Linked DNA regions of Homo sapiens: region 2 is linked to region 1. A link means that fine-mapping ties the variant in region 1 to the expression of a gene that starts in the linked region. Tissue or cell type: whole blood. Region 1 holds a variant in brackets; the other region holds the start of a gene. All regions are shown on one strand. Distances are between the middles of the regions.

Region 1 (2,749 bases):
TGCCTCCCAGAGATCACTGAGGACTGCTGAGCAGAGGCAAGGAGGAGGTGTTGGGGTTACTGGGGAGGACTGCTCCACAGAGGCTCAGCCAGGCAGGGGCCCCGGTGGGGGTGGGCCTGGCTTGTTGGGGAGACGAGCCAGGAGGTGAAGGTGGGGGTGGGGGTGGGCCTGGCCTGTTGGGGAGAGGAGCCAGGAGGTGAAGGTGGGGGCCGACTTCTTCCCAGGGTCCCTCTCACTGCCAGGCTGAGGATGTACTGTGGGGCCCAGGTGGGAGCTGAGATGGGGAAGGCCTTTCCAGAAGGAGGAGCTGGGAGAGAGGCCAGGTGGACGTGGAATCTCTAGGACTGGGGACCTTGAAGCAGCAGATAGAGCGGCGGCTCAGGGCAGTCTCCCTCCAGGTCTGAGTGCATGGAGGGACACGGCGTCCGAAGCCACCCTAAGCTGGGGTGGAATCTCACTGCACCCTTTCTGAGCGATGTGGCCTTGGGGGGGCCGATGGAGTTGCCTGTCCTGTAGGTGACTGCTGGCCCCCAGGCTTCCGTAGGGTTAAATGAGATGGTGTTGGCAACACGCCCCCCAAAACCTGGCCATAAACTGGTCCCAAAACTGGCCATAAACAAAATCTCTGCAGCACTGTGACATGTTCATGACGGCCATGACGCCCACGCTGGAAGGTCGTGGGTTTACCAGAATGAGGGCAAGGAACACCTGGCCCACCCAGGGCGGAAAACTGCTTAAAGGCATTCTTAAGCCACAAACAATAGCGTGAGCGATCTGTGCCTTAAGGACATGCTCCTGCTGCAGGTAACTAGCCAGACCCATCCCTTTATCTTGGCCCATCCCTTCGTTTCCCATAAGGGATACTTTTAGTTAGTCTAATATCTACAGAAACAATGCTTATCACTGGTTTGCCGTTAATAAATACGTGGGTAAGTCTCTGTTCGAGGCTGTCAGCTCTGAAGGCTGTGAGACCCCTGATTTCCCACTCCACACCTCTCTATCTCTGTGTGTGTGTGTCTTTAGTTCCTCTAGCGCTGCCGGGTTAGGGTCTCCCCGACCGAGCTGGTCTCTGCAAGGTGGTGTGTGGCTCCCACTTGGGAGGCCTCCAGTTACTGGCACTGTCATCACCATGCCCACTGAACAAAGTGGACCAAGCCCCAGAGGCAGCCAAAACCACACCTTTCTGCAGGGAGGGTAAACTGAGCCCGCGAGCTCAGGGCAAGCGCACCAGGCGCATATGCTGGCCTTCATCTGTCCTCAGCTCCTCCCTGCGGGCACAAGCGGGGGCAGCTGAATCTTCCACGCGAGAAGCCTAAGAGTAGGGATACGGGGGCGGGGAGCAGCAGGCCTGCTCTGTGTGTAAACAACGGGAAAGCAGGAATAACGCCAGGGCCCGCGGACACCAGCTGCCTCCGAAGTCCCGCTGCCCGGCGCCTGCATGGAGCAGCCTCCTGAGCGCAGTGTGGCGCGTCCTCCTGTGTAAAGAGGGTAGAGCCGCGCCGGGTCCCTCCCTCTGCAGCCGTGAAGCCCCCGCGGGGCCCTGCAGGTGGCTGGCGGCACCTGCACACGGTGGTTCTCTGTTCCTTTTTCCTCCTCAACCACTGAGGTTAAAAAAAGTGTTAAAAGCCACCCTTTTTGTTTTTTTGAGACGGAGTCTCGCT[C/G]TGTCGCCCAGGCTGGAGTGCAGTGGTGCGATCTCGGCTCACTCCGAGCTCCGCCTCCCGGGTTCACGCCGTTCTCCCGCCTCAGCCTCCCGCGTAGCTGGGACTACAGGCGCCCGCCACCGCGCCCGGCTAATTTTTCGTATTTTTAGTGGAGACGGGGTTTCACCGTGTTAGCCAGGATGGTCTCGATCTCCTGACCTCGCGATCCGCCCGCCTCGGCCTCCCGAAGCGCTGGGATGACAGGCGTGAGCCGCCGCGCCCGCCCATTTTTTTTAAACGTGTTGGGGTTTGGGTTTCAGCCACAGGCCTTCTGCGATGAGAGGAAACCCAGGACGCGCAGCCCCAGGTCAGGCCCGCGGAACAGCCGGGCGGACTCCGGGGCTCGCAGACTCGCGACCCGCGTGCCATGAACCTCCGCGCCGGAGGCGGCAGCAGCGAGCGCGGGGCTGGATCCAGCGTAGCGGGGCGGCCGGGCGGATCCAGCGCAGCCGGGAGACAGATGCGAGGCGGCGGTCAGGTGAGCGGCGCGGGGCCGGCGGGGTCGGGGCCGGCGGGGACGGGGCCGGCGGGGACGGGGCCGGCGGGGACGGGGTCGGCGGGGTCGGGGCTGGGAGGGACGGGGCCGGCGGGGACGGGGTCGGCGGGGACGGGGCTGGGAGGGACGGGGCCGGCGGGGACGGGGCCGGCGGGGACGGGGCCGGCGGGGTCGGGGCTGGGAGGGACGGGGCCGGCGGGGACGGGGTCGGCGGGGTCGGGGCTGGGAGGGACGGGGCCGGCGGGGACGGGGCCGGCGGGGACGGGGCCGGCGAGGTCGGGGCCGGCGGGGACGGGGCTGGGAGGGCGGCCCGCCCGGCGCAGGGGCCTCGAGACCTCGGCCGCCCCACCCCGGGGACGCCGCCGCTGCTCCGGCGTCCACACCAGCTGCGTGCGGAGCACCCGGGCGGCTCAGGGGACCCGCGTGGCCGTGCCCCCGCCCTGGGCTGCTCCGAGCCTCAGTTTCCCCCTCGGTGGAACGGGTGGGTGGGAGAGACCTGCCCCCGAGGAGCCCGGGAGACCGGGCGAGCTCCCGCGGGTGTGGTGGGTGGGGA
Region 2 (2,749 bases), 71 kb after region 1:
CTGCCCACAGTTCACAGCTGGAAACAGCTCGGAGACCCCCAAGCCCTCACTCCCAACCTCCAGGCTTCCTATGTCCACAAAGCTGCTACTGGGAATACCCAGGAGCCTGGGACTATCAGTGTTAAGAAAGAGCTCTGGTCCCTCCCACAAATGACAAATCAAAACCCAAACCCACCAGCCCTGGGGCATTTGTCCCTATACCTTGGACTGCAGATACACAGGGTGGGTGGACCTGCTCCTCCCGGGGACAGCCCTTCGGGCTCCAGAGGATGCCACTGTGTGCGGCTGGGGGACTGAGAGGTTCCCATGTAGTTCCAGAGCGGCAGGCTGGCCTGCCTGTGCCCTCAGGCACCTGCTGGCTCCCTGGAATGGGAGCTCTAGGAAACCAGGAGGTGGTGGGCTTGGCTGGGCAGGTGGAGGAGTCTGCAGTTTGCATCCAAGTTCCTACCTAGGCAAATGGAACCCCGAAAGCCCTTTTGGAAAAGTCTCTGATCGGGAAGGGGGGAGGTTCTGAGAGCTTTCTTCCCGTTACCGACTCCAAGGTCCTGCAGTAGGGCCTCCACCATCAGGGCAGGGAGCGCTCCACGCGCACCTACCCTCCCCGATGAGCGTGCGCCTGGGCCACTCCCGGACCAGCCACCCTTGCAGCTCTGGAGTCCCCGGCAGGCCGCGCCCGTGCATGCCCCACATCCCCAAGACCCATCTCAGCCCCTCGCCCCTGGCAGGATCCCTGCCCGCGAGTCTACGGCCCTCGCCCCCCGGGACTCGCGGCTGGGCGAACAAAGCGGACGCGCTTGCAAGCGGCCAGCGTCGCCCTCACGCCCCACCGACAGGGACCCCAAACTCCAGCCCCGGAACCCCCCTCCCCCGCTCCCCGGGTCACCGGCTGGCTTGGCTGGGAGGGGGCTCAGGACGAAACTCCGGGCCACCCACCAAGGAGCGTGCCGGGCACGGCTTCCCGGGCCGGGAGCGCAGAGAACAAGGGGGCGGAGACTCGGTCCGTGTGCCCCCAGCCCCGCGCGGGGACCGCGCCCGGGAGGTGCCCCTGGCCCGCCGGACGACCCCGAGCTGCCAAAGGGGTCTTCGCGACTCCCGGGAGCGGCGAAGGGTGAGCCCTGGGGGGAGGGGCTGCGGCTCGCTGCGGGGAAGCGCTGCGCGGGGGTCTCGGGGGCTGGGGCTGAACTCACCTCCGGTGCCGGCGCCCTCCGGGGGCTCCATGCGGCCGGTGCGGTCTGGGAGGGGCACGGGCGACGGCGGCGTCGCCTGGCCCGGGCGCCCCAACAGCTGCGGCAGCGACTCGGCCCCGGCTCCGGGCGCAGCGCATCGGGGCAGCAACCGGGGGGCCGCGGCGGCAGGGAGGAGCCCGCGGGGCGGGGCGGGGCGCGCAGCTGCTCCCGGGCCCCGGCCCCCTCCCGGCGCCCCCCCAGCCGCAGGACAGGTGCGGCCCCGCCCCGGCCCGCGCGCGCCCCCTGCTGGCCCCTGGCCCAGCGGACCCCTCCCCCGCCGACCCTTCCCTCGCGGGCCGCGCCCCGCCGCGGACACCACCGGGACCTGGCTGCGCCCTCCCGACCCCGGCCGGGCGTCCGGGGCTCCTGCGCACTCACTTGGCGGCCGCGCCCGCTGGCGTCCTCTTGTTCTCTTCCAGGTACTTGCGTGTGGGGCGCCGACTGTGTGCGGGCGCCCCTCGGGGCTGGCGAGGGGCACAGGAGGGGCCTGACTCGCGCTGGGTAATGACAGACTCACAGAGCGCCCTGGATGGCGCGAATTAACGCGGGGGGCGGGTGGGGGCGAGGGCGTGTGCTTGGGAGGCTGGAAGGGGCGGGATGGGGGATGGGAGGTAAGGAGAGGGCGGCGGGCCCGGGCTGCAGAGAGCGCCAAGGCAGTTTCGATGAAACTGACCCCCATGTCCCTATCGCCCAGATTCAGCGATTGCCAGCTCCTGGCCTGGGCCACTGCTTCTCTGTCCTCATTCACTTCCCTCCACTGCTGGGTCATTTTGAAGCAAATTATATACACATTAGATCATTGCATTTGTAAGTACTTCAATATTTATCTCTCAAAGAAAGTCCGTTTGCAGGAGCATTGACTCATGCCTGTAATCCCAGCCCTTTGGGAGGCTGAGGTGGGAGCACAGCTTGAGCTCAGGAGTCCAAGGCTGCCGTGAGCTATGATTGTATGTCTCAAAAAAAAAAAAGAAAAGAAAAGAAAAGAAAAAGTCTAGTCTTCATAAACACTCTTGTTAACCCAGCATCCAGGCCTTCACTGAGTTGATGCCGTGGCCTGAGGCGGTTTACCTGGTGGATAGTGGGTGGCAGGAAGCATCAGACATCAGACAGAGGGCAGTCGGTTTGTTTGTATTAACATTTGCTCTGGGATTTTGCAGGAAACTCAGATGCCATTTATCTGGGTTTCTGAGCTGCACAGCTTGACACTGAATGAAAGTATCTTAAGCCACATATGTGAAGAAAAGGCTCTTTTCTAAAAATCTGAACTCGAATTCAATATGAAAAGAACAGGTCGCAGTGGGCCCTGTCGGGATCCCAGGGAGCCGCAATTCAGGGCTCCCTGAATGATTCATCTCTGCAGCCCACACCGACAGACCAGGATTGCTCTTAGCTTGTGAAAAATGAGTACCCTGTCTAGGCTATCCTGAGCTAACCCTCCTATTCTTGCCCTTTTTGCTGAAAGGAATTATTGTTAATACAGCTATTTAATTCAGGACACTCATCCAGACTTCTGAAGCAAAAAG

Evidence for each region. PIP is the estimated chance that this variant, and not a neighbour inherited with it, causes the effect.
Region 2: DBNDD1 starts here. The variant in region 1 is fine-mapped to the expression of DBNDD1 in whole blood (TOPMed, PIP above 0.99).

The regions. Positions count from the first base shown.
Region 1 is chr16:89,946,637-89,949,385 of GRCh38, forward strand. DEF8 (differentially expressed in FDCP 8 homolog) reads left to right here and starts at 2,119. Exons shown (of 13, transcript NM_001242818.2): 1 at 2,119-2,178. RefSeq lists an enhancer at 1,129-1,468 and a silencer at 2,149-2,248. The variant C/G (reference allele first, on the strand shown) is at 1,662.
Region 2 is chr16:90,018,124-90,020,872 of GRCh38, forward strand. DBNDD1 (dysbindin domain containing 1) reads right to left here and starts at 1,333. Exons shown (of 4, transcript NM_001042610.3): 1 at 1,188-1,333. The coding sequence starts at 1,218. It also overlaps a transcript of DRC4 not described here. RefSeq lists silencers at 1,452-1,591, 2,338-2,632.